Linked DNA regions of Homo sapiens. Each later gene encodes a partner of the first gene's protein in a complex. Each region holds a gene or a part of one and is shown in the gene's direction. Other genes may lie near its edges.

Evidence for each region.
Region 2: PPP2R1A (region 1) and STRIP2 share a complex: the UniProt entries of both Homo sapiens proteins name them as parts of the core of STRIPAK complex.
Region 3: PPP2R1A (region 1) and PDCD10 share a complex: the UniProt entries of both Homo sapiens proteins name them as parts of the core of STRIPAK complex.
Region 4: PPP2R1A (region 1) and STRIP1 share a complex: the UniProt entries of both Homo sapiens proteins name them as parts of the core of STRIPAK complex.

The regions. Positions count from the first base shown.
Region 1 is NC_000019.10:52,207,034-52,214,058, forward strand, and holds part of PPP2R1A (serine/threonine-protein phosphatase 2A 65 kDa regulatory subunit A alpha isoform), read left to right. Parts: intron 1-4,226; coding exon 4,227-4,459; intron 4,460-5,652; coding exon 5,653-5,800; intron 5,801-5,921; coding exon 5,922-6,077; intron 6,078-7,025. UniProt on the Homo sapiens protein: The PR65 subunit of protein phosphatase 2A serves as a scaffolding molecule to coordinate the assembly of the catalytic subunit and a variable regulatory B subunit.
Region 2 is NC_000007.14:129,458,414-129,465,438, forward strand, and holds part of STRIP2 (striatin-interacting protein 2), read left to right. Parts: coding exon 1-37; intron 38-298; coding exon 299-364; intron 365-1,103; coding exon 1,104-1,167; intron 1,168-1,887; coding exon 1,888-1,959; coding exon of another isoform or gene 1,960-2,084; intron 2,085-4,174; exon of another isoform or gene 4,175-4,236; coding exon of another isoform or gene 4,237-4,317; intron 4,318-4,552; coding exon 4,553-4,627; intron 4,628-5,630; coding exon 5,631-5,728; intron 5,729-6,198; coding exon 6,199-6,325; intron 6,326-7,025. UniProt on the Homo sapiens protein: Plays a role in the regulation of cell morphology and cytoskeletal organization. Required in the control of cell shape. Calmodulin-binding scaffolding protein which is the center of the striatin-interacting phosphatase and kinase (STRIPAK) complexes.
Region 3 is NC_000003.12:167,724,890-167,731,914, reverse strand, and holds part of PDCD10 (programmed cell death protein 10), read left to right. Parts: intron 1-6,441; exon of another isoform or gene 6,442-6,514; intron 6,515-7,025. UniProt on the Homo sapiens protein: Promotes cell proliferation. Modulates apoptotic pathways. Increases mitogen-activated protein kinase activity and STK26 activity. Important for cell migration, and for normal structure and assembly of the Golgi complex.
Region 4 is NC_000001.11:110,044,613-110,051,637, forward strand, and holds part of STRIP1 (striatin-interacting protein 1), read left to right. Parts: exon of another isoform or gene 1-75; intron 76-227; coding exon 228-293; intron 294-402; coding exon 403-466; intron 467-2,067; coding exon 2,068-2,139; intron 2,140-2,929; coding exon 2,930-3,004; intron 3,005-3,159; coding exon 3,160-3,257; intron 3,258-4,499; coding exon 4,500-4,626; intron 4,627-4,847; coding exon 4,848-4,948; intron 4,949-5,730; coding exon 5,731-5,797; intron 5,798-6,343; coding exon 6,344-6,448; intron 6,449-7,025. UniProt on the Homo sapiens protein: Plays a role in the regulation of cell morphology and cytoskeletal organization. Required in the cortical actin filament dynamics and cell shape. Part of the striatin-interacting phosphatase and kinase (STRIPAK) complexes.

The DNA.
Region 1 (7,025 bases):
GTTTCTTCCCAAATAGCATTATGTAAAGAAACTTGATAGTTACCATTAAATTCGGATATCTCAGCCTTCATCTGGGCATATGTGTATAATTTGTGCGTATGGACACACAGAAAATTGTATACAAATAGATCGTTTCATACATTTTACACAAAACAGGGCTTAACATGAGCATGATGAGGTTTGGGGGCCAGCCTAGAAGGGGTTCCTTGAATTTCACAAAATTATCTGTAGCCCCTGCCTGGTATTTGTCAGGTGGAACTTCTGAGCAGTGAATTCATAGCTTTCAGTAGCTTCTCAGAGGACTTAGGAGCAGAAGACATTATTTTTATGAAACCGCAAGGCTTCAACAAGGGCCCCCAGGGTCTGCAACTGAGGTTGGGACTCAGGCTTGCTGTGGAGCTGGGCTGGGACCCAGGGATCCTTCTCCTACCTGGCCAGGGTCTCCCAACAGAACATTCTCAGTGAGGAAAGTCCCAGTCAAGCCACGCTTCCTTTTGGGAAGCAGTTCCCTGTGACCGATGTGCCTGACGTTCATGTCAGCCAGCAGACACATCCTGGGGCTGTCTGGGCCAGGCAGTGCTGGAAACCAGAGAAGAGTTAGATCAGAATAGCTTGTGCTTGCTCGTTGCCTGCAGTGCACATCCCAAGAGCCTTACACAGTTGTATACTGATGTTAGCTGTATTGCCCAGATGAGGAAACTGAGGCACAGGCAGATTTAAGTGAATTGTCCGAGCTGGGAAGAGGCAGAGTCCAGATTCGATCCCAGGCCCCTAATTCTTAGCCACTCCTATGTGCTATCCTCAGAGGGCTCCTGGTTGCTTTCAGAGCTGTAAACAAGGGAGGCAGGGGGGTCCTTAAACCCAGGGAAGGCGCCTAACCTGCTTAGGTGGGATGGGAAGTTGTCAGGGAAGGCTTCCTGGAGGAGGTGGCTGTTAACCTGGATTTTGACAGGTTATAAGAAATAGAAAATGGCTTTGTGTAGTTTCTTCATTCCACAAACATTGAGCAAGGTCTCTAGGCTATGGAAACCCAGAGATGTGTCAGACCCACTCCCGGCCCTTGCTCTCAGCAGTGGTGAAATGGAATTAATTACAGAGACTCCTGTAGCTGCAGTGTAAGGATTGTTTTTTTGTTTGTTTTGTTTTTTTCCCGAGATGGAGTTTCACTCTTGCTGCACAGGCTGGAGTGCAGTGGCGGGATCTCGGCTCACTGCAACCTCTGCCTCCCAGGTTCAGGTGATTCTCCTGCCTCAGCCTCACGAGTAGCTGAGATTACAGGCGTGTGCCACCGCACCCAGCTAATTTTTGCATTTTTAGTAGAGACGGGGTTTCACTTTGTTGGTCAGATTAGTCTCGGAATCCTGACCTCAGGTGATCCACCCACCCCGGCCTCCCAAAGTGCTAGGATTACAGGTGTGAGCCACCGTGCCTGGGTGTGAGGGTTGTTTCTGTGTCAGCAGCTCTTTTTATTTTTATTTTTCTTTGAGACAGAGTCTCGCTCTGTCACCCAGGCTGGAGTGCAGTGTTGTAATCTCAGCTCACTGCAGCCTCTGCCTCCCGGGTTCAAGTGATTCTCAAGCCTCAGCCTCCCAAGTAGCTGGGATTACAGGCACCCATCACCATGCCTGGCTAATTTTTGTATTTTTTGTAGAGACAGGGTTTCACCATGTTGGCCAGGCTGGTCTAGAACTCCTGGCCTCAAATGATCACCTGCCTTGGCCTCCCAAAGTTCTGGGATTACAGGCGTGAGCCACCGCATCCGGCCAGCAGTTCCTAACTCTTTTGGAATTATGGATCCCTTTGAGAATCTGTTAAATTCTGGACCCTCTTCTTATAAAAGTACACAGGATTTTAGGCGGTTCACACTCTTCCCTACCCTGTGTGGTCTCCAGGTTTGAGAACCCTTGCCCCCAGACTTCACAGAGAGGCTTCACAGTAGTGAGTCTTCACTGTGCAAAGGCATCAATTGCAGTTTCTTAAATGTGTACCTTCCTGGGCCCTGCCTCCAGATATTCTGATTGTTTTGGTCCATGCTGGGATAGGCCTCCGGGTGATTCTGCTGCAGGGTGGTCAGGGATCATCCTTTGAGAACTACTTCCTGCAGTAACCTACAGGAGAAGAGAACCTTGGCTTACATAATTACTGCTCAGCCTCTGTCCCAGGCCTCCTTATAACAGATTGCCGTAAGTTCCACCGGTAGTCACTTGGCAAGTGTTGATTGAGTACCTTCTCTGTGCCAGCCCAGGTGGTGGGAGAACTGAGGTGAACAAGAGGAACTCTGTCCCTGCAGTATCCCAGTCACACCGCACCTATGGTCACACTCCCATGATACTGTCCTGAACTTGAGACGTCACGATAGCATGAGGACCTGTGACAGTGACATTATGCTGGCTTGCTTAGTATTACATTTTTCCTTTGAATCATTCATTGCAACTATTTTTAAATGCTATTTTTAAACATTTGTTTTTATTCTTAGTTTTACTGTAAAAATATACATAGAATGTGCTATTTTAATTATTTTAAAGTGTGTAGCTCTGTGGCGGTAGGTTTATTCACATTGTGCAGCCATTATCACCCTCCATCTCCAGAATTTTTCACCTCCTCAAACTGAAATTCCAAACCCATTGGACATGAGCTCCCCCTTCCCTCTCCCCCAGCCCCTGGCAGCCACCGTAGGAGTTTGACTGTTCTAGATTCCTCATATAAGTGGAATCAGAAAATATTTGTCTTTATGACTATTAGCTAATTTCCCTTGGCATAACATCTTCAAGGTTCATCCATGTTGTAGCATGTGTTACATGAGACTTCTCACATACAAGATTCTTGAGTTTTTTTGAGGGCTGCATTTGGAAAACCAGATTTGCTTATTGCCAGCTGCATTCTCCCATAGTGACAGTCCTTGGAGCTGGGGAGCACCTGCCCTCCCTGGGCTACATGCCCTCCAGGGTGCCACAGTGCCTGCCTCTTCCTATTCATGCCTCCTGCCACCCCTGCCTGTCACCTTGGCTGATGGCATCATTCTGTTACTTGACTGAGCCCTGGAGGCATTTCCATTTATGATTTTTTTTTTCCTGCTTTAAATACCTGTCAGCCCAAGTTGAATTTCAGATCAGAGACCTCCACACCTTTATTTGAACATATTGGGATAAGTTGAGTCTCCCTTCAGTAGGTCACTAATTAAGAGTTCCTGTCTTGTGCTAAGAGTGCTGCTGGGCTCTGGGGATACAGTGGAGAGCCAGTCGTATGTATCTGAAGGAGCACAGTCATTCTAGGCCCACAGTAACAACCAGCGAGCAGTCCCGAGCCCCATAGTCCCCCAGAAACATGAGATCCCAATTCAGTCACCAGAGCTGTGTGTAACTGTTCATGGGAAGCTTAGGTCAGGTTTTCGATCCTGACCTGTAGCTATTACTAGCTTGGGCAAGCCAGGCTGTACCTCAGTTTTCTCTTCTTTTTTTTTTTTTTTTTTTTCTTTTTGAGACGGAGTCTCGCTGTGTTGCCCAGGCTGGAGTGCAGTGGTGCGATCTCGGCTTACTGCAGCCTCTGCCTCCCGGGTTCAAGGATTCTTCTGCCTCAGCCTCCCGAGTAGCTGGGATTACAGGTGCGCACCACCACACCCAGCTAATTTTTTTGTATTTTTAGTAGAAACGGGGTTTCACCATATTGGCCAGGCTGGTCTTGAACTCCTGACCTCGTGATCCACCCGCTTCAGCCTCCCATAGTGCTGGGATTACAGGCGTGAGCCACTGCGCCCGGCCCGTTTTCTCTTCTTTAAAATCAGGACTTGCTTTATAGAATTCAGTGAGGAAGAACAAGCACCCCTGGTACAACACGGAGGTCCTGCCTAGTACACACAGTGAGTAGATGTTCTACACAGTGTCAGTGATGATCATTGCACTTTGAGAGGCTAAGAACTTTCTCCTCAGAAAGCAACGTGTGTAATTTTAAGGTTTATGGACCCCAGTGAAACTCCTTCAAGGACCCCTAAATAAGAACCTTTGTGGAAGGCACGCTGACAGAGACCTTCTGCTGGCTGGCATAATATTACGTTTTTCCTTTGAGTCATTCATTGCAACCATTTTTAAAGGCTATTTTAATGAAGGTCGGGATGGGTAATAGGGAAGTTTTCTCTGAGGAGATGAGCCCATGATGGGGTGCAGGATGGGGCTCCAGGGCTGCGGATGGTGGAGAGGGAGCTGTCCAGTGACTTTGTGTTCTCACCACAGCCACCGCTGGAGTCGCTGGCCACAGTGGAGGAGACAGTGGTGCGGGACAAGGCAGTGGAGTCCTTACGGGCCATCTCACACGAGCACTCGCCCTCTGACCTGGAGGCGCACTTTGTGCCGCTAGTGAAGCGGCTGGCGGGCGGCGACTGGTTCACCTCCCGCACCTCGGCCTGCGGCCTCTTCTCCGTCTGCTACCCCCGAGTGTCCAGTGCTGTGAAGGCGGAACTTCGACAGTGAGTCTCTGCCTCCTTGGAAGCTCCAAGCTCCCATCTCAGCTCCAACCTTCTCTAAAGCCTCAGACTCCTTTTGGTCTAGCTGGGGCCCAAATGCCCCTGAACTCTCTCCACTCCCACTCCTGCTTACCACCTGATAGGCCACATCCTCGAGAGTTGGTCTCTGGACACGGCCACGTGTCAGTTTACCCACCTCTGCCCCCTTGCTCACTTAGGAATTGAGATGATGACAGGTCCTCCTTCCCACTGGTTAATGTGAGGATTTAAAAGAATTATCACACATAAAGTGCTTAGAGCAAAATCTGGAACATAAAAACTTTCAGCAACTTACATCTGATGGTATCTCCAGCCTGTCCCAGGTCCAGTGCCTTTGGCAGATAAACCACCTCAGTTTTCAGCCTCCTGCTCGTCTACTTTGCAAACGATTGACCGTCAAGCCCGGGTTTGAGCCTGACTCACTCCAGAACTCTGGTTTATGGCTGTACACTTGCTTAGATACTTACACTGGCCCCCACCGCCTTTGATCGAAGCAATTGCTGCTGAAAAATAAAGCCTTTCTGTGGCTCTAGACCTGCCTCTTAGTTAAGCAGTTTTTTGTTTGTTTGTTTTTTGAGATAGGATCTCGCTCTGTCATCCAGGCTGAAGTGCACTGGTGCAGTCATAGCCCACTGCAGCCTCAACCTCCTGGGCTCAAGCATTCCTCCTGCCTTAGCCTCTCAAATAGCTGGGACCACAGGTGTGCAACACCACGCTGGGCTCATTTTTTATTTTTGGCAGAGATGGGGTCTCACTATGTTGCTCAGGCTGGTCTTGAACTCCTGGGCTCAAGCAATCCTCCTGCCTTGGTCTTCCAAAGTGTTCAGATTACAGGTATGAGCCACTGTGCCTGGCTCGTTGGTTAAGCAATTTTTATGGGAATGATGTAATCGTCAGCACTTAGCATTGACTAGATTTATTATGCGCAATCTGCGAAGTGTCTCACACACACTATTTTCATTTAAACCTCATGCGGACCTGTGGGGTAGGTACTGTTACTATCAGCTCCGTTTCATAGGGCTGGGAAGACAGAGAGGGGGTCATCACTTGCCCAAGGTCATTCAGCTAAAACCTGGACCCACACAACTGCAGAGTCTGTGCTTGCTCCTCTCTGCCATACTGCCTGCTGCCTCAGGATCCCCGTCCCCGACTCCCAGGTACTTCCGGAACCTGTGCTCAGATGACACCCCCATGGTGCGGCGGGCCGCAGCCTCCAAGCTGGGGGAGTTTGCCAAGGTGCTGGAGCTGGACAACGTCAAGAGTGAGATCATCCCCATGTTCTCCAACCTGGCCTCTGACGAGCAGGTGAGTTTTGCTTCCTGGCCCTCTGCTCTCCCGTCCTTCTGGTGGTTCCTGCCCATGAAAGAGAATCCCAGAGCTCAGCAAGGCCTCTGCTGCCCTCCCACTGTTCCTCTCCTCTCCCTAGGACTCGGTGCGGCTGCTGGCGGTGGAGGCGTGCGTGAACATCGCCCAGCTTCTGCCCCAGGAGGATCTGGAGGCCCTGGTGATGCCCACTCTGCGCCAGGCCGCTGAAGACAAGTCCTGGCGCGTCCGCTACATGGTGGCTGACAAGTTCACAGAGGTAGATGAGCGACCGTTGACATTGTCCCACTGGTGGGGACACTGACACTCTCAGAAGGGAAGCATATAGGAGCTGAGGTTTCCATTAGGCCGATGGAACCATTGGGCGTTTGAGCAATAAGATCTCTATGATCATCTAACTGCGTCTCGCTTCGTGTGCCAATCCTGGTTGATTGACATGGCATCTTAAAGTGCTGCCTTGAGAAAGATTCTGAGGCAAAGTTAAGGCTACGTGGAGGAAAGTGCCACAGGAGCAGAGAAGGGTAGCACATGTGGGGTGTTCCTGACATAATCAAGCTGTCCTTTCACAAAGGGGAAGACAGCCCAAAAAGGTGGGGTTTTTTGGTGTTTTTTTTTTTTTTTTTTTTTTTTTTTTTTAAGATGGAGTCTGTCGCCCAGGCTAGAGTCTTGTTACCCAGCTGGAGTGTGGTGGCGCAATCTTGGCTCACTGCAGCCTGTCCCTCCCGGGTGCAGGCATTTCTCCTGCCTCAGCCTCCTGAGGGACTGGGATTACAGATGCCCACCACGACACCCGGCTAGTTTTTGTATTTTTATTAGAGACGGGGTTTCACCATGTTGTTAGCCAGGCTAGTCTCGAACTCCTGACCTCAAGCGATCCGCCTGCCTTCATCTCCCAAAGTGCTGGGATTACAGGTGTTAGCCACCGCGCCCAGCCCCGGAAAGTTTAATTAACTGATCAGAGTGACACTACCAGCCAGGCAGAAAGGGGACAAGACTCCAGGTCTGTGACTCTCAGGACAGTGCTCCTTCCACAGGGATCCAGATTGCCTCATCCCACAAACATGTTTGCTGAGCACCAGCTATTTGCTGGGCCAGTGAATTCGGATCATTCCTGGCCTTCATGGAGCTAGGCAGTCTGAAGGGGAAGACTGACTTAGGGGAAATTTGATTATAAAGTGTCACAGGTGTGGGACAGACAGACAGATGT
Region 2 (7,025 bases), on another chromosome or scaffold:
CTTTTCCCAAGGGCCTGCCCTGGGCCCCAAAGGTCAGGTAGGTTTGATAGCATCAGGGACCCCTATGCTTCGGGGTTTCAGTCTCCAAAGGCCCAAGATGGGGTAGTCTATGTATTCAAGGCTCGTTAAGTTGGTCTGGCAGTCAGAACTCCTGGGTTTGAAATTCCTTCTGTTGATTGCTGCCTTTTTCCACTGCTCCAGTCCTCTGATTGGAGGGATAGGAGCCCGGAAAGTTTTTCTCTCTCAAAGTTTGCTTTTCTTCCCTTCTCTGGGATTGGTCTTTCCACCATCCTCTCAGACAGAAGGACATTGAGCACTTCTTGGAGATGAGCAGGAACAAGTTCATCGGATTCACCCTGGGGCAGTAAGTGACTGAATGGCTGGAACTGGCTACAGAGTGGTTCCTAGGGGGCCAGAGGAGCAGGTAGCTTGGAATGAGGGATGGTGCCTGGTGGTCATAATGTAACCTAGAGCCCCTAGGCCATGGACAACTCCCAGTGACTACTTTGGGTTCTTTCTATGGATTTCTTTTTTCCTTGAGTTTCTTCCACTTTTCCTCAAAGAACTTTTGTGTTTTTAGCCAACTGTAGGACTTTGAGCAACAAGTCATTTCTCTTTCGGGCTTAATTTTTTCCTGAGGTTGTTGGGTTAGATGGTTTCTGTGGGCCCTTCCTGCTCTAATGGGCTAAAATTCTGTGAACAAGAGACATGGTCAGAACGGATCCAGTCTTCCCCCATTCCCCAGCCTCATGAATCCTTCCCACTGGCCTCTTGAAAATTGAGTCCTTATTAGTGGAGTTTCATAGTCAAGGTGTCATTGGGCTATATACCCTTTTAAGTAGGAACCTACCACTCCTACACCAAGTGAGTACCCAAAAGACTATAAAAATCTCCTGATTTCCAGAAACATTTCTGTGTACCATTATTATTTTTGTGTCCTGAAGCACTGATGTGGGACCTACGAGCTTGCAGAGGAAGGTCTAGGGTACTGGGGGTAGATGTTGTTGAAAGTAGCATGGTCTGTTGACTCTAGGGGGGTATTGGGGTATCAGTAGTTCTCGTACTTTGGAAGCTTATGATCTGGTATGTCTGGCCTTTTACAGGGACACAGATACATTGGTTGGATTACCCAGGCCCATCCATGAGAGTGTGAAGACCCTAAAGCAGGTGACTGGGGTGGGCTCTCAGTCTTCAGGGATAGGGAGCCATCAAAGCAGGTCAGATTACCAGGCTCCTGGATACTGGGTGGGGCTTTTATACCAGACTCTTTCTGGACCTTCTGCATTCCTCCTGCAGTCCTTTGGCCAAATAGGAAAAATTAGGTCTCTCTTTACTTACTCAGTTTCCTATATTCAGGTAGATTTTAAAATTCTCCTTTCTTCCTCTCATTTCTTTTTCCTCTTCCCATTCTTCTCTCTCTCTTCCCATTCCTTGCTTCTTTTTCTTTCACTTCTCTCTGTCCATAAGTCTACTAACTTCCAAAGGCCCAGGATTGAGTAGGAGCCTGCTCTATATCCATTGTATGCATGGAGTCATCACTCCATGCATACGTGCACACGCATCAAAATTCTCAGGGCAGTGGTCCAGGGGCAGGGGCCTGTTTCTGACTTCCCCTTGCACTTTATTTGAAGATAAATGCTTAGGTATTTGCTGCTCTTCAGCAAATGTAGAAACAGAATTTTAAAAAAACACTGTGCACAAAGCACTTTGACTGGTGCTGATGATGCAGAGGTGATTAAGACTCCTTCCTTGAAAGAGTTCATGTCTATGTGGGGTAACAAACCCATAAGCAGAACATTTCCTTGCTTTTGGGGAATTTAAGTAAGAGACTGGTACACATGTGAATGAGGCCCTCAGCCCTTGTTGATGTCTTCTTATCTTTGTCAGCACAAGTATATCTCCATCGCAGATGTGCAGATCAAGAATGAAGAGGAGCTGGAGAAGTGCCCTATGTCTTTGGTGAGCCAAGGAAGCCCTACACAGGAGGAGAGTAGAAGAAAACCTGTCTTCAGTGTTGTCACAGAGCATGTGTGCATGCATTCATTCAGCATATTAGGCTGTAACTGTGTTCCAGGCAAGACAAGGTCCCTACTTTCATGATATATTGAAGTTGGGGAAGAAAGATAAAAAATAAAAAGTTAAGTAAACCAAACTATCAGAGAATGGTAAATACAATGAAGAAAATTTAAACAGGATGACATGAAAGAAGCATCAGTAGACTACTTAAGATTGGGCAGTTGGAGTAGGTAGACCTCTGAGAAGGTGACATTTAAGCCAAGATCTGAGGGACAGGGATCCAGCCATAGGAGCATCAGAGGAAAGAGCATTCCAAACAGAGAGAACAGCCTTAGCAAGGGGAAAGCAGGCTTAAGAGTGTCAGAGGTAGTGAAGGAAGGCTGTTGTGGCTAGAGCACAGGGCCGAGGGCTGGGATCCTAGAGATGGAGTCAGAGAGGTGGCCTGAGGCCACTTTGCCGAGGACCTGTAAGCAAAGGTAGAGAGCTTGAAGTTGACTCGCAGTCAAAGGGAAGGCAGCCTTTGGAGATTTGAAGCAGGGGAGTGATATGATCTGATTTATGTTTCTAAAAACATTAGCTTCTGTGTAAAGATTGGACCAGAAAAGCATAGACGCACTCTACGGAGATTAGTTAGAAAACCCTTGAAATAGTCAAGGTGAGAGATGATGCCGACCTGGATTTGGAGATGTAGCTGACAAGACTTGCAGTGCATTTGGATGTGGATAGAGAGGCAAAGAAAGGAATCAAGAATAAGTACCATTTGCCAGGATGTGGGGGGAATATCAAGAGTTCTGTTTTGGTCATACTAAGTTTTAGATGCCCATTAGATACCCATGTGGAGCTGCAGGCAATTGGAAATAAAGTCTAGAATTCTACAGAGAGGGCTGACTTTGAGAAATAAATTCGGGAGTTGTTTGTAACACTTATAGGCAGTGTTAAAGGCCGTAGAACTGGCTGAGATAACCCAGGGAGGGAGTAGAGACAAAGAAGAGAATGGAAGGCAGGACAAAGCCCTGGGGCACACCAGTATGTTGAGGGGGGGATGTGTCAGGAAAGGAGCCAGAAGAATATGAAAGACAGTGAAGTGGCTGGAAATCCAGGAGATTATGATATCATCATAAAAGCTAAGAAAGTCTTTCAAGAAAAAAGGAGTGATCTGCTGGGTAAAATGCTACTAATAAGTGGCATTATGGTAAGAACCAAGGTGCCCATTGGATTTGGCAACATGAAGATAGTGACCTTGATAAGAACAACTCTAAGTGAAGTAGTGGGACTGAAAGCCTAATTGGAGTGTATTGAAGGGAATGTCAAAAAAGGAGGTAGATGATATAAAAGTTTTGTGAAGAGGAGAGAAAGTGGATGGTAGCTGAAGGAAAATGTGAGGTCAAGGGGAGGATGTTTTATAGCTGAGAGATACTAGAGCATTTTTTGTTTCCTAAAATAAGTGATCCAAGAGAGGGGATAATTGCAGGACTGAGGCATTCAACAAAGCAAATGGGTGTGGGATCCTGAGCACAAGTAGGAGACTGGCCTTTGTTAGAAGCACAGGCGGTTCATCCTTCATGTCAAGAAGGAAGGAAGAAGACTCTTGGTAGATTTGGTGTTGAGAAGATGAGTGTGTGCCTGTCTGATTGCTTCTGTTTTCTCCATGAAGCGTGAGGCAGGGTCAGCAACTGTTTAGGGATGGTGGGCAAAGGAGTTGGTTTGAGGAGAGAGAAGATGGTATGAAATCAGCCTTTTGGAGAGCAGGAAGGCAAACATGCCAGGATTGCCAGGCTCTGTTGAATGTCCATTTAGGACTTACGTCCATTTAAGCAGCAGATTAGTTGTGTGGGACAGAGGGAGGCGGGTTATTCTTCCCTGCCTCAGGGTCTCATGGCAGTGGCCCCTTGCCCTGTAATAGAGGGACCTTGTAGGAGGAAGGGAACTGCATTGGTCAAAGATGACAGTGGCCTGAGCAGCTTATTGGGTCCCTGAGACCCCAGCCTCCCCACTCTGATAAAAGGCTTAGTTAATGTCATCAACAGGACAGAGATAGTTGTATATGAGGGAGCTGGTCAGAAAGGAGAAAGTGATGTAGGGGCTAATGGAGAGGGGAAGAAAATCATTTCCATCCACTTAAAAGCTTCTTTGCTAATATTCCTTCCTGTTTCTCCAGTCCATAGGTTACCCAACTTCCTTTTAAACCCACACTATTGAGCCACCTACCTCTCCTTCCAGGCTTACAGAACGTTCTAGAGTTTTCAGCCTCAGATCCACACCATAGGAAGTGCTTCTGTAGCATCTGTTCCAGTATCCCAGGTACTGAAAGGTCATCCAGGCCAACCTGATGGTCCTATTAAAGAGAAAACTAGGACTCAGAAAAGGAATGTGACTTAACCAAGGTCACACAGTGAGTCATTAACACAGCTAGGGTAGAAACCTAGATCTGACTCCCAGCTTAGTGCTCTTTTCAGGTCACCCCTCACAACCAAGAAAAAAAAGCCTTTGGTCACCTGGAAAGTGGCATTGCCAAACCATGTATTTCTTGCCATAGGGGGAAGAGGTGGTACCAGAGACGCCATGTGAAATCCTCTACCAGGGAATGCTGTACAGCCTTCCGCAGTATATGGTAAGGAGATGGCTAGGCCAGAGCTGCCCTTCTCTGCTGCAAGGAACAGACAGCTAAAAACCATTTCAAGTGGACCTGTCCAACACTTGAGCTTGTTTCCTGAGCCTTTGCCCCTTTGGCAAGGCATTCTCTGACACATGCAAATTCTGAGCTTTCCTCAGTGCTCCTCTGATGGTGCTGTTCTCCCTAGTCCTTCTTTGGGAAGGGTGGGGAATAAGTTGGGGTCTCTACAGGATACACTGGGGACCCTCCTCCGAGATAAGTACTGTAGTCCCTCTGAGATCTGCTGTGGTCTGTCATGTCCTAGATAGCCTCAGGCTGGGAGTGGGGAAGATGCCAATGGTTCAGGTTAGAGGAAAGAAAAGAGTGGGAGAAGTTGGGTTTATGCCGCCCACCTTATTTCTACACACTGTCCCTCCCACTCTGTTCCTTCCATCTTCCCCTTTGAAAAGAACAGTCTTTTTTTTTTTTTTGAAGTGGAGTCTCACTCTGTCGCCCAGGCTGGAGTGCAGTGGCACGATCTTGGCCCACTGCAACCTCCACCTCCCAGGTTCAAGTGATTCTCCTGCCTCAGCCTCCCGAATAGCTGGGATTACAGGCACATGCCACCACGCCAGCTAGTTTTTGTATTTTTAGTAGAGATGGAGTTTTACCATGTTGGCCAGGCTGATCTTGAACTTCCAACCTCAAGTGATCTGCCTGTCTCGGCCTCCAAAAGTGCTGGGATTACAGACATCAGCCACCATGCCAGGCCCTGGAAAGAACAGTCTTGAAGCATAACAGCCAATGCACTCCCTCTGGCTTTCTCCCTAGCCTCACAGGCAGGCCTGTCAGGACTGGGCACCTGTTTGCTTTTCTGGATGCTGGGGAGATATGGTCATTGAGGGAAGAACTTACAGAATGGCTTTAAAACACTTTTTATAGGGCGGTTAGGGTGTGGAAGAATCACTTCCTTGCTGAGTGGGTTTGACAGTGGTAAATTTCTTTATTTTCTACTTCTCAGATCGCTCTGCTTAAGATTCTGCTGGCTGCAGCTCCCACCTCTAAGGCTAAGACAGACTCTATCAATATCCTGGCAGATGTCCTACCTGAGGAGATGCCGTGAGTGCTTCAACGGGGGCAGCTGCTGGATACTAGCTGTCTTATCTGCAGGCTCTCTCTAGTCCCCACTCACCTTGTTAACACTTACAGAGATTGTCTCCAAAGAGATCTCCCCGTCTCTGCCCACCAGTACCCCCTTTCCCGTACAGGGCTTTCTGCTTGGCTCTTTTTAGCTCAGAACTCTGGATCTGGAGGGTGACACCAGTGCCAGCGACTGGCTGCCCAGGTATTTGGGTGAACATTGCCAAGGGATGAGCTTGCCAAAAGAGAGACGGAAACAAAGAGATCAGTGGAGCATTTCTTCAGATAGGCTCATAAGTGGGAACTCTGGAGGTTTCCCTGGCACAGAAGTTCAAGTTTCCCAAGTTCTGGCTCTCTTGTGTATATTGTATCAGACCCAAATACCTGGATCCCTACAGGGCTCCCTTTAAGGCCACTCTCTGCACTAATACCTTCTCTCCCCATTGTAGCATCACTGTTCTCCAGAGCATGAAGCTGGGCATCGATGTGAACAGGCACAAGGAGATTATTGTAAAGAGTATCTCTACCCTGCTTCTGCTACTCCTCAAACACTTCAAACTCAACCATATCTACCAGGTGAGCAGCTAGGAGCACTTCTCCACAGGTCTTGGGTGTTTGCCAGGCCCTATCTCTCAAAGGAAGGATGCAAAGTCCCTTTTAATCCTGATGAGCATCTTTCAGCCTTTTCTTTGTCCTCTCTCAGGGAATCCAGCCACCCATTGCATGAGCTTGAGGTAGGGTTATGGAGTGGGAACTGTCCTAGAAAGGTGCAGATGTCTGTGTCCCTTGTAAGTTATCCCAGAGTTGTGGGTAGGAATCTCTAGCTTCTCAGGAATATGCCCAGCCAGTTTTTAAACAATGCAAGAGAGAATGTAAGCATTTCACAAAAATGGGGGGGTGGGGGGAGTATGTTGACCGTAGTTTTCTATATGTGAAGCACTTTTCCAACATTTGAGATATAATTCTGAGAATAGGGCACAGTTCTGGCTCTTCAGGGCCTTGAAACCTTATAAAGGATACAGATATATAAGTAGCCAATTATAGAGAGATAAGTGCACTGATACTGATAAGCACTGGTTGCTATGGAAACATCTAATCCAGCTTGAGGTGGAGAAGAAATGACTCCTAACCTGAGTCCTAAAAAAACAGATGTTAGCCAGGATATGGGAATTGTTAGGGAAGGAGGACAGGAGGCATTTCAAGCAGAAAAGCTAATATGCAAAAGTCCAGAGGGGGAAGAGAGAGAGCAAAGTACCTTTAAAAACCGTAATTAAAT
Region 3 (7,025 bases), on another chromosome or scaffold:
TCACGCCTACCTAAATGTGGCCACCTGGTAGTCAGTTTTCACGTCTCAATTTAAATATCGTTCGTCAGGGGAGCCTTGCCCGCCTTCCCAAAATCAGAATAGGTTTCCGCCATGTATTCACCATACTCTGTACTCCTTTGTGGCATCATCATAATAGAAACTTAATTATTTCTGTATTTATTTGACAAATACTGTCTCCTCACTGGACTATAAGCTCCCTGAGCAGGGCCCTCTCATTTGTCATGTTTTACCCCACTACTTACGCAGTACCTGGCACATTGTAAGGGTTCAGTAAATATTTGCTGAATGAATGAAGGAGTGTATTCATGCACAGTGCTTCCAGCACTTCTCTGGGGACAGAAATAGAGAAATGAATAAAGCGGATATGCTTTCTGGATTGAAGTATATAAGAACTTTCAAATGAGCCATAATGCTTAGGCAATTTAGGTTATATGTAAAGGAGTCATTGACAGAATTTTAATATAAATTGTGGAAAAATGTTTGTTCTTTTTGGAGGTCTCTGAAATCAGGATTAATTTTCTAAGTGGAAATGATAAAGGAATCACTTTCATTTGCCGCAGAATTGCTGTGTAACACAGCATTTTAGAGACTTATCACTGTCCTGCTTTTTGCAAGCGATATTCATTATAACAAAATATAGACATGGAAGAAACTTCTAATGGACTCTTCTTCCCTAATGTTGTCTCGTTTTGCCCTAAAAACCTTTATTTCCTCTAGGTAGTAGTATTAATACTGTTTTATAGCTGAAGACATCAAGAAAATAAGTAAATTTACTTATTAAACTAAAAAAAGTTTAATTAAATTGCTAGAGTTTCCAGAACGTTGGTACTGGAACCATGGTTAGAATCTGGATCTATCTCCGTATTCTAGAATCCATAATTTTTTCTTTTTCTTTGCTTTTTTGTTTTGTTTCTTGCTTTTTAACCTTGCTATCTTCCTATGAATTATACCTTTAATATCACTTGATTTAGACAAGGTGGCTTTGTAAAATTGAGTAGTTTTTGTTTCAAAGGAACTTATATTTTGGGTTTCCTGAAAATTTTTCTAATACTTTTCTAATCTTATTTGCTTTATAGCTGGAGACTTAAGCATAAAAAGATTATTTTTAAAACATACAAACTGAATTTTAGGGATAAATTGTGTTAGGTTTTGGTCTTGGAAACAAGTTCTGCAGTCATTTGTAGTACCACGGTATGGCATAGAGTAAGGTCAACAGCCCTGAGTTTCTGTAGCCTTGTATGCCTTCATGGATTTACCAGTTTACTCTTCCACAAGATCTTGTCAAAAAGAGATTGCTGATAATTTGGCTTTAAAATTTGGTAATACTATCCATTTTATTATTAAAAACAAGTCTTTGCTAAATCCTAAACTTACTTTTTAAAAAGTCAGTGTTGATGTTACTTGAATCTTGGATAAAATTTTCATATTTACCTAGCATAACCAGTATGTGGAGGATAAAACTGAAATACTGCTTTTTATATGTTGTTGGATAATTAATATCATTATGATAGGTGTTACTAAGAATTTTAAGCCACTTACATGATAAGTAATTTTTTCCATAATATAAACTGTAAAAGTGATTTAGAAGTTAAATGTCATTGTTATCTATGTTATTGCATTTGAAATATTATAGTAAGCTGCAGTGTTAGAGGGTTATGCTTTAGGGACACACACACACACACAATGCAAAAAATGAAAGCACATTTATTATAGCAATTAGAAATAATTTATGTGCTGAAAGATAAACACTGTGGTTTGATGGTTCATTTTTGTCTGTATGAAGATGGTAATTTCAATTTTGTCATTTAAGCTACAAAATTTAAATGTGTCTTAAGTGTATTATATTACACTTATTTTTCAAGCTCACCCTTACATTTTTGGTTATGTATAACCATTTTTAAAATCACCCAAAAGTGATTTTCTGCTGTTCAGTTTCATTCTTATACAGTTGATAGAATCCAGGTTGCCTATAGGGTTAAAAGAAAAAGAAAAGAATTTTATTAACAAGCTTATGAACTATTGGGTAACAGCAGTGGAACATGTTAAGTGGTAGTCACTAACATATACTTAGGCTGGTCCCTTGGGAATAAGTTTACCAGAGGTTAGTCTAAATAATGACTTTTTGATTCATTTACTTATTGAATGCATATTACTTGTGAAATTGCCTTAAACCTTCTTTGGAATGAACTGGAACCTAATATAATAGCTAGCATTTATTGAGTATTAAGTAACTAAGTGCCAAGTCTCATGCTAATAAGCATTTTACAGGATCTCTTATAATCCTTACGACAACCCTTCGAGGTAGAGGCACTATTATCTCCAGTTTTTAAATGAGGAAACTAAAGTACAGAGAGGTTAAGGAACTTGCCTACGGTTGCAGGAAAAATTGCTTGGAATTAGGATTTGAATCCAGGCTGGCTGACTCAAGAGACCATGTTTTTCATCATTATAGTAAAAATGATGTTAGTGATTGAACTGCATTGGAGAGAGAAATTAGCATTAAGAGTTGTAGTTACAGAGCAGTTATGTCTTAAATGCTAAGGTCAGTGTGGCAGGCAGAAATTACTTAATATTCAAACTTTTTAAAAAACCTATTAGGAAATACACGTTGTAGACTAACAACTTCAACACAGCCAGTTTTTTTCTAGCATTGGAGTAGATTTCTTTTGAGTACCAGGTGAAGTGTTTGACTTGTTATGCAGAGACCATATTGAAAAAAGAAATATGTATATTATAATACAAGAGTCACAATCAGTGTGGCAAGCTACTCTTTGTGAGAGCTCACTGTGGCTCTCAGTCTGGTGTGGGGAGTGGCAGATCCACGTTTCTTATCTGTCTCATTCTGGGACTTTTGCATAGGGAATGGAATTATCACATACTGCAGTAGTTATTTTTAGTGAAGTTATTTTTTTGTTTGTTTTCTTCAAACAAATGTTCACCATGTCTGTTGAACTTGCATAGGGTAGGAGTATCATGTGAAGCAGGTACGCTCCCTGGAGTGTTAATGCCAAGTGGCAGTGTGACATGTCACTGTATTTCTTTACTGTCTCTCTTCCCTGCCAAGACTACATACCTTCAAGGGTATGTGCTGTTTGACTTTTCATCACCATATCTCCAACTAACACTGTTGCTGACTTAGACTGACTATGCAGAATACTGTGTTGGATACTAGGAAATAGAGAAATGGATACAACTTCTCTTTAGGGAGTTTATACTTCAGTAGATACAAGGGGAAAGGGTTGAAAGACCATTGTATGGACATTTAGTCTTTCTAATATACTAAGTACTTCCATGTGCATCAGTTCATTTTACAATTTTAGGTTAGAGCTGATAGAAAAATAAATGATTGTTTCTCTAACTGCCATCTGGTCCCTGGCACTGAAATGGGTCTCCCTGTCTTATTCAGTCATTCTCTCTTACTTCAAGATAGACTGGAATTCAACTGAGATTGAAGTTATGGAATGACAAAACCCTAAGATGTTACACACCGGCTGCCTCCTCAGACTTATATAAGGTTACTACAACAGAAGCCAGTTGGGAATGTTAAATGAGTCAGACCTGGCCTCTAGACAGCAACTGCACCCTATACGAGTTTAGATTGTTGCTAGGCTTTTTTTCATTTAATTCCAAAGCATTTGGAATCCTTTTTTTTTTTTTATTGAGAACTGCACATCTTTCTCTATGTCTTTATCCATATTAAAATCGGTATTTATGCAGTACTGTCAAAATTTGAGAGATTTCCAAGGTTCTACCTTATTTTTGGTATGCTCCCTTAAAAAATAAATCACACTTTTGCGAAGTGAAGGTTACAGGAGGAACAGTAGATGCAGTAAAAACAGATACTATCCTAGCCCTAATTTCTTCTTGTAAGAAATAGTATTTGTATTTGAGATCAATTGGGAGCTAAAGGTAAAGTTAAATGTCATCATCAAGATAGAACCTTGGCCTCATTAGCACCTAATGTTAAATAAGGCAGAGGCTATTTATTGTCTGGGGCTAATAGTTTCTGTCAACATTTGAGTGCCCTGTGGCAGTGTTTTTGGTGCAAAGAAATTGTGTAAAGTAATGAAAGTACCTGTTGCATGTTTTAGAGGATCTTAAGCCATTAGGAGTCATTAAGTTAAATTCTAGGTATCTAAGATTATAAGTGATACAAAGCAAGTAGCTCTGATCCAGGGTGGTACAGATTCTTTTAATTGTACCTTTAAGCAGAGAGGACCTAACACTCTGAGGAATTAAGTTTAGTTGAATTTCTAAGGGATTTTAAAGGAAAGCTTTAATTAACATCGTATTGGAGAAACTAAGACAAGGAATAATACTAATAAAAAGGAAAATAGACATGTACCTCAATTAAACACCAAACAACTATTCAACTAGGCATTATTCATGAACCATTAGGTTGAGAACTTTATGGGCAAAAGATGAACATATTCAAGGGGACAGATTTGTTTCCTGTCTTCCAACAAGTGTTTTCATTTAAATTTTACTCAGATCAGAATTTACCAAAAATTTAGACATAGGAAAAAAAAATGAGGATTGTCACAACTAAAGAGATGTATGTTTTTCCCCCTGAACAAGTTGCTTTGAAATATCGTAGGAGCCAATTGTTACTATTTTGTTACTGTTTCCATTTCCCATCAGCTAATTCTGAGGTAATGAGCTCTTTAATTTTGTTGTCAACTTTTGATTATCTTGTACAGATTATAAACCTTTTATGAATTATCTCAAGGGCTTTGATCACATCTTGATTTCAGTGTGCAACCCAGCCTGCTACCCAGCCTGCTTCTGGGCCATGGTTTCCTTTGTTAAGTTTATCTATGTACATTTAGAAAAGTAATTTTAACATTGGTTTGGCAAAAAGTTTTAAAATGCACCTGATGGCCAAATTCTTTTATGTAAGCCAAAACTAAGTGTATTTATGCATCCATTTTGGCAAATGGGAGATAAAAGGTTTTGAAAATATGCTATGTAGGTGGCCTTTATGACATTGTGATATCAGTGTTTGACTCTCATTGTGTATGTTATGCAGGGGCAGGACTAGGGTGAGGCAAGAGATATGCCTAGGGTACAAACTTTGAAGAAGCACTAACTCTCTCAGTCATGCAAATCAGAGCAAAATTTTGTGTTCTAGGCATCTGGTTTGCCTCACCCTAGTTGCAATCGATTCCATGTCAGGTTCCTAGAATTTTGGCTAAAATATTAATAACAATATGAATAGAATGGTTATTATGTGTTAGCCACTGTAGTAACTATTTTATATGCAGTTAGTACTCTTAATCTGGGGAAGTGAGTACTTCAGTATTTCTGTTTCTCACTAGTTTAGAAATAGAGATTTACAAAACTGAAATGATAGCATCCAGCTGAGCAAAAATTCAAACTGAGGTTTTTTTCCTTCCAAACTGAGCACTATCTCCTGCTGTATACTGTCTATCTATGTGTAGAAAAAGTTACTTCTTACCCATTTTATAAATTTCTGTATTAAGAAACAGTACTCTGGCCAGGCACAGTGGCTCACGCCTGTAATCCCAGCACTTTGGGAGGCTGAGGCGGGTGGATCACCTGAGGTCAGGAGTTTGAAACCAAACTGACCAACATGGTGAAACCCCCATCTCTACTAAAAATACAAAATAGCCAGGCGTGGTGGCAGGTGCCTATAATCCCAGTACTCGAGAGGCTGAGGAAGGGGAATCGCTTGAACCTGGGTGGAGGTACGCCACTGCACCCCAGCCTGGGTGACAGAGTGAAACTCTGTCTCAAAAAAAAAAAAAAAAAAAAAAAACAGTACTCTACAAAATATGTAAGTGCATACACTTGACATGGTGCAGTTAACTTTTAAGATGAGCTGGAAGTCTCAGCAGCACCAAGTTGAAGATCCACAAGCTTGTGCTGCTAAGTACCCTAGAGTTGTCAGACATATTAAAGAAGAAACCAAAGGATAGAGAGGTGAAATGACTTGTTCAGAGACAAAGATAGTTTATGAATGACAGGACCAGAATTTGAGCCCATGCTTTGAGACTTTAAATGCTTATGCTTTTTCCCTGTATCTTTCTGCACAAATTGTCCATTTAATATTTTTAAAGCATATATATATATATATATATATATATATATATATATATATATATATATAAACGATACAATGGTAAAGTGCTATATACACTTACCATTAACAAGAGATTGCTTCTAGATGTCCCTAAGTGTAAAATTCTGTAAGTACTAAACTGACAGTAGTGTATGTTCAGGGAGGTTAGGTTCCACTTAACTTTATTAAGAAAACTGGAAATGGAAGACATTGAATTATAGAAGATGTAATTTGCAAGTCAAGGAGAGAGATGTAGGTATATCCTTAAGACATCAAGCTCATTTTACTCTAAGTAGGATCACTGACTTACCCTATTCCTCTGCCTCCCTTTTTCCTAGCTTTCTCCTCTAAATCTTGGTCTCTTGTTTGGAAGTGACTAACAGCATTTTGGCATGAGAAAGCCCTAAAAAGGTACGTAAACTGTGTCAGCAAATGTTAACCCCACCCCGCTTTGTTAAATGGCCAGACTACCATCTATACAGTCTTTGTAAAAATCCATTTTCTCTAAGAGTTTGATGAGTGATTTTTTTTTTTTTTTTTTTTTTTTTCTTTTTTGAGACAGAGTCTCGCTCTGTTGCCCAGGCTGGAGTGCAGTGGCACGATCTCGACTCACTGCAACTTCCGCCTTCCAGGTCCAAGCAATTCCCTTGCCTCAGCCTCCTGAGTAGCTGGGACTACAGAAGCCCACCACCGCATCTGGCTAGTTTATGTATTTTTAGTAGAGATGGGGTTTCACCATATTAGCCAGGCTGGTCTTGAACTCCTGACCTCAAGTGATCCACCTGCCTTGGCCTCCCAAAGTGCTGGGATTACAGGCATGAGCCACCGTGCCCAGCTGATGAGTATGATTCTCTGTGTTATATTATTGAGAGAAAGCAAGGAATTGTCAGTTAATTGAAATCCTGGGTTAACCAACTCTTGG
Region 4 (7,025 bases), on another chromosome or scaffold:
AACTAGTTAACATGTATTTCCAGGTTACTGATCCAGCAAAATTATAAGAAACATTAAAATTCTCTGAAAATTTCAGTTTTTTCCCTTTTTTCAAAGAGAAAAACAATTATAGGAGACTTCTCCTGGCTTCACAGTTTCTGGATGCTGTGTTTTTGTTAACTGTAACACTTTGAAATAGCATTTGCTAAAAACCTTTTTTCTTTCTCTCTTTTTTGGTGATGTGGCAGAGAGAAAGACATTGAGATGTTCCTTGAGTCCAGCCGCAGCAAATTTATAGGTTACACTCTAGGCAGGTGAGTAAAAGCCGAGTTCATTTTGCTGTTAGCTCTCCCGGCCTTTGGTGTTTGGGATCCCAGGTGATTTGATGTCGAGGCTCAACACAGGGCCTTCTTTATTCTCCAGTGACACGAACACAGTGGTGGGGCTGCCCAGGCCAATCCACGAAAGCATCAAGACTCTGAAACAGGTGAGTGGCTTTGGGTGAGCTTTTGGCTTGTTTGGTCCTAAGTGAGTAGAGTGAAACCAGCCTGTAGGGAGAAGCCTTTTAAGACTGTTGTCTGCCTGCAAGAACCTGGGGTAGAGGCCGGGGTGGACTTTGCAATAACCTTGCAAACAGTCTTTCGTAAGTTTTGCTTGTTTTATTATAAGTTTTACTTGTTTTAGCTGAGCTTTTGTTTGGGACTGACTGGGAAGTCTTTAAAGATTATATTACCTGACCACCGGGCACCAAGGCATGCACCTGTAGTCCCAGCTACTCAAGAGGTTGATGCAGGAGGATTGTTTGAGCACAGGAGATCAAGGCTACAGTGAGCTATGATCATGGTCCTGCACTCTAGCCTGGGCCACAGAGTGAGACCCGGATTCTTTAAAAAAAAAAAAAAAAAAAAAAAGGATTATATTACTTGACAGTTGTTGAAATTCTAAAGAGCTCAATAAATAGCCCTCCTTTTCCTTGCCCACGTTCTCAGGCGGTTGAAATAGAGGAGTAGGCAGATGGAGATTGTAATGCCAACTTTATAGCTCATAGAGCCATGGAGAATGAGGCTTAAGAACACAGCAGTAGTGTCCTAATACGTTGTTCCAGAATTAGGCAGAGTTACCTACCAGTCCCAGGCAGTGTGGGGAGGCTCTGCCAAGCTTGGTGGCGGGGAGGAGAAGAGAGCAGACTCTCAGCAGGCAGACAGGTTCTAAAGAGAAAAGAGAAGGGTGAGGACAAGTCCGCCCTGTGTCCCCTCCCATACTCTCCGATCAGAGAAGGGAGGAGTGAGTGTGTGGACGGGGCAGAGAGAGATGAGGGGTGTTTCGCAAACCCCTGTCCCTCCACACGGGAGAGAACATTAAGAGTGGGGAAGAGGCATCTCCCCTAACAGCTATCTGGAGTGAAACTGTTTTTATGTTTTTGAAATATATTTTTGGAATTTGTAGTACTAAGTGGTCTCTCTGCAGCTAGGCTTTTTGAGTACTTGATTTTGCTTTCAGTTTTTCTCCTGTTGCTGTAGCTATCTGAAAGGCCATTTCCCTCCTTTAATTTACTTTTTTCTTATCTACCATGGGCTTCTTACTGTAGTTGCAAGAGGAAGGGGCCCTTTTAGAAAAATATTTTGGGGCCAGGCATGGTGGCTCACGCCTATAATCCCAGCACTTTGAGAGGCCAAGGTGGGTGGATCACCTAAGGTCAGGAGTTCAAGACCAGCCTCACCAACATGGCAAAATCCCATCTCTACTAAAAATACAAAAATTAGCCAGGTGTGGTGGTGCACACCTGTAGTCCCAGCTACTTGGGAGGCTGGAGCAGGAAAATTGCTTGAACCTGGGAGGCGGAGGTGGCAGTGAGCCAAGATCATGCCACTGCACTCCAGTCTGGGCAACAGAGGAAGACTTCATCTCAAAAAAATAAAAATAAAAAATATCTGGGGTTTGGGATTTTAGCTAGGGATTTTTGTGGTGACTTAATCCTCTTTCAGAAGACTGTGTTTGAAGACAAATGTGTGGGGATTTTGCTAGAGTGCAGGGAGTTTGGCCAGAGAATGTTTTCCCCAGCCCTTCTTTTCCCATCTCTCCCACCAGCACAAGTACACGTCGATTGCAGAGGTCCAGGCACAGATGGAGGAGGAATACCTCCGCTCCCCTCTCTCAGGGGTAAGTTGGAGGTCCTCAGTCCGGGCGCGGTGGCTCACGCCTGTAATCCCAGCACTTTGGGAGGCCGAGGAGGGCAGATCATGAGGTCAGGAGATTGAGACCATCCTGGCTAACATGGTGAAACCCCGTCTCTACTAAAAAAAAAAAAATTAGCCAGCCGTGGTGGCGGGCGCCTGTAGTCCCAGCTATTCAGGAGGCTGAGGCAGAAGAATGACGTGAACCCGGGAGGCGGAGCTTGTAGTGAGCCGAGATAGCGCCACTGCACTCCAGCCTGGGCGACAGAGCGAGACCATCTCAAAAAAAAAAGTTAGAGGTCCTCTTCAGCCCCCGGGATCCCCAGCTCTTCCCAGGCATTGTGCTGGGATTAGACCACAAGGTTGCCCCAGGCCCTGCCCTCAAAGAGCTCCCAGTCCACCTCCCAGTGCACAGGCTGAGACACGTCTAGTGCAGGGTTAAGAATACAGACTGAGTCAGGAACCTGCCTCTGATGCCTGGGTCCACCACTTTATGGATGGCAACTTAGGCAAGTTACTGGGTCTCTCTATGCTTTATTTCCTTGTCTGTGAAATAGGAATAATAATACCTTTATAGGGTTATAATAATAAGGATGAACTGAGTTATTACAAGTAAAATGCTTGGCACATTGTTTGTGTTCAGGGTTTGCTGTTATCATCATTAACATCATTATGTACATCACTGTTTACAGGTTTTCCTCCAGCCAGCTAGGAAGCTGGCTCAGGAGATTGTATTCTGGGCTGGGGTTTTATGCTTGTACTCATTATGTTAAAAGGGAGAAGAAGAAGTTGAGCAAGTCCCTGCAGAAACCCTCTACCAAGGCTTGCTCCCCAGCCTGCCTCAGTATATGGTGAGTGGTGCCTGCAGTGGGACACTCCCACTACACTGGCCTTAGAGCAGGCCCTGCCGTCCTCCTGCCACCTGCAGACCAACAGGAGGACTGCTCAGAGCTTAATTTTGACCCTGGGCTCTCAGACCTGTGTCTGAATGGTCTACTCTTCCCAGATTGCCCTCCTGAAGATCCTGTTGGCTGCAGCACCCACCTCAAAAGCCAAAACAGACTCAATCAACATCCTAGCGGACGTCTTGCCTGAGGAGATGCCGTGAGTATCATTCTGTGAATGAAGCAGGTGGGGCAGAAGATAGATGGAGAAGGGCAAACATTTTCCTCTTGTCAGGTTGGTTGTTGTTGGCCCAGCTCTACAGGTTAAATGTAGGTATTTTTGACCCAAAAAAAGGAAACTACGAGATTAAAGAGTTTCACTGGTTGGGGAGATGGCTTGGTCCTGTTGGCCTGGATTCTAGTGTAGACTCTACCACTGAGCAAACTCCTGAGTGAATTGGGGAAAGTCATTTCCTCCTCTGTAAAATGAATGGGGCCACCCTGGACATTTCCCCAAAGCCCCACTCTCCAGCTGTGATTGAGACACCCAGGATGAGGAGGGTTAGTTTGTAGACAGCTTGCCAGCAACAGCTGAACCTGTGCCAGGTATAGAGACATCCCTTTTCGCCAGTGATTGGGCACGCAGAATGCTGGCAAATGTCTCAGGGCGATAGAGTGAGATTCTTCAGAGCTCTTCTGCCCTGTGCCCTGTACTTGTCTTTCATGTGAGAGTCCAGATTGAGATCATGTTCTACTTTGAGAAGGACCTGGACCTTGACCTGATCTTCTGCCTGCCTGGGCCACCAGCCCTGAGCCCAGCTCCTGGGTGGCTGTGGCCCCGGAGTATGGCAGTGATGGCCGGCTGAGGGAGGAGGCAGGGGTTGGCTAACACCAGAGGGAGGATCACAGAACACTAGGCCATCATGTGATGGTCCTTGGAAAAAAGGTTCTAGAGTCAAATACTGTATATTTGATTCATGGATTTCTCTTATAAGGAGGAATTCCTCTTACAAAGATGTACAATGAGAAGTCCTGAATTAAGAAACCAATGTAACTCAGTGCTTCCTAAATTTATCTTACTCCAAAACCCTTTTTTTCCATGACATGAAACTTGCCAATATCCTGGTATTCCACAGAACACATTTGGAGAACTCAGGTTAATATGGCAGCAGAAGCTTAGGGGAGATCTTGGAAAGGAGAAGAAGTTCATTTTTGGAGGAAAGGCAGAGAAACAGACTGAGAATGTATTTGAGGGCATCATGGGGAAGAAATAAATTGTGCGAGGCTACATTGCTTGGGAGGTGGATGGGGGAGCCCTCGGCTGACTTCTGAGATGTCCTTGGGGTGAGTGGGGAGGTAGGAGTCTTTGCCCAGGGAGGCTCCGGAGTCCATCTTTTCTGTGGGCACCTAGAAATGAGGTACTGCGCATGCTGGTGGCTTACCCAGGCAATTATGTTTCCAGCACCACAGTGTTGCAGAGCATGAAGCTGGGGGTGGATGTAAACCGCCACAAAGAGGTCATTGTTAAGGCCATTTCTGCTGTCCTGCTGCTGCTGCTCAAGCACTTTAAGTTGAACCATGTCTACCAGGTACCCACAGGGCTTTCCCTCCTGTCCTGTGGGCTGGGGCCTCGGGCACTGCTGCTCCTCCAGCCCACAAGAACGGGGGCCTTGGCCTTTGACCCACTTGAACTCTGCATGAATGTTCTAAGACATGGCCCTTCAGCCAAGGCCTTTCATCCCTGGAGGAAAGAGGGCAAGGTCCCAAGGGCCGCGCCTTTTTTTTTTTTTTTTTTTCCTGTTGGCTTCAGTTTGAATACATGGCCCAGCACCTGGTGTTTGCCAACTGCATTCCTTTGATCCTAAAGTTCTTCAATCAAAACATCATGTCCTACATCACTGCCAAGAACAGGTGATGAGGGCCAGGGACCATGAAGGGGTGGATATGGTCAGACGGCAGAGTTCCCAGCTGGTATTTCCCACTGTGTCCATTTTTCCAGCACCTACGAGCCAGCACTGTGCTAGGCATCAAGACATAAAGATAAATGAGACATGGCCTCTGCCTGTGGAGAGCCCACTGTGTCAAATCTGAGTCTAGCTAGTCCTGCCCCAGGTGACTTGGTCTGTGCCTGGGCAGGAGGGTTTTCATCCCAGGATCTAGTACTTTCCTCCCTGTCCCTTCTGTACTTTTTTTTTTTTTTTTTGAGGAGTCCATGGGCTGCTTGCTGTCTCTAAGGGGCTCGGCCATGTGCCTTGTAATGCCCTATCTGCTGACTCTTAGCCCCTGCTGTTGGCCTGGTGCCAGCTGTGCTTGACATTACTTGCTCGTCAGTGTGATATACCACAGGGCGCCGGCCAGACCCTGTCTCCAGAAAGGTTTGGCATAAATTAGTTGCCCTGAGCTATCTCCTCCCCCGCCCCACATTGATTGCTGTGGGGGAAGCTGTGAGGGTCTCTTCCCCTTACAAGATCAACAAGCTGGCCTCTGGCTACAGGGGTGCTTTACAAGTTCTCTTGTAACAGATATTTCCTCATCTTATAGGTGGGGAAACTGGGGTGGGACACATCAGGTAGATTCCTACTTCTGCTCCAACAAGTGAGGGAGGAAAGCTGGGAGCTGGCTCAGGCACGGCTGCTCCACCAGGCCCTGGGCCTTTGCTCATGGTGGGCATCTGGTTCCTCTCCCCTCTGCAGCATTTCTGTCCTGGATTACCCTCACTGCGTGGTGCATGAGCTGCCAGAGCTGACGGCGGAGAGTTTGGTGAGTGGCTGGGCTCTCCTCAGCTGTCCTTTTGGCACCAGGGTCAGTGGGTAGAGAGCCTGCCTACCCCAACACTGCAGGAATAGAGGTGTCTCCCGCAGGTGAAATCACTGTGGAGTGCCCGGCTTTTAAAGCACTGTAAGTGTACAGAAGGGCCAGGAGGAGGGCTCTTGCAGAGCAGAGAGATTTGGATTTAGGGATTAGTCAGGGAGTGTGGTCTTCAGGGGCTGCTGATCCAGAGCTCACCTAGTAGAGGGCTTCTCTCCCTCAACACTGGACTCGGCAGTAGGAGCTCTGGGGCAGCCCAAGGCCACAGCTCCCAGTATCATGGTTCATATTTCCTGCAGGAAAAGTCTAGGGAGCCTCCCTCTTCCCCTAGTCCCCTGCCAGCTTCTGGGATGGAGTCCTGGGGCTGCTCTGAGAGCAGGGGATTCCTGGTAGAGGCCTGGAGACCCGGCTGTCCTGAGATCATGTGTGAGGGACTTTTGGAAACTGCTGCACACACTGCAGCCATGAGGGCTGATTGTTCCTGGGTTTACCCTGCAGGAAGCAGGTGACAGTAACCAATTTTGCTGGAGGAACCTCTTTTCTTGTATCAATCTGCTTCGGATCTTGAACAAGCTGACAAAGTGGAAGCATTCAAGGACAATGGTAAGTGAGTCAGTGTAGTCAGCAGGCTTGGAACTTGGAGCTCAAAGAAGAGTGCTGGGAGCAGGGAGTCCCCAGGGTGGGGCTCACTGTGCCTTCTCACTTAACTTTGCTGTAGCCGTATCCTTGCATTTTAAGGGCCAATTCCCAGTTCCTTGATGAATTGAACTGGAAGCTGGAAGAGGCCCAGTCATGCACTGAAACAAATCTACATTTATAGAAGAACTTTTTCCATGTCGTCTTAATCTTGATTGGTAACATAATCAGGGTTCTGAGAATCTTCCTTAACTCTGGGTCTGTGGATGCCTTTGGGGTGGGGAGGTCCTTGAATCCTCTGATAACTGTGTGTACATGTACACCGGAATGTTTCTGGAAGGAATCCATAGCTTTCTTCAGATTCCAAAGTGACACATAGTTAGGGTGACCAACCATCCTGGTTTGTCTGGAACTCTACTGGTTTTAGCATTTAAAGTCCTATGTATCAGGAAACTCTTCAGTCCAAGGGAAACTGGGATGGTTTGTCACCCTGACAGTAACTTCCAAAGGGTTAAGCAGCAGTGTGACCTGGGATGTATGCATT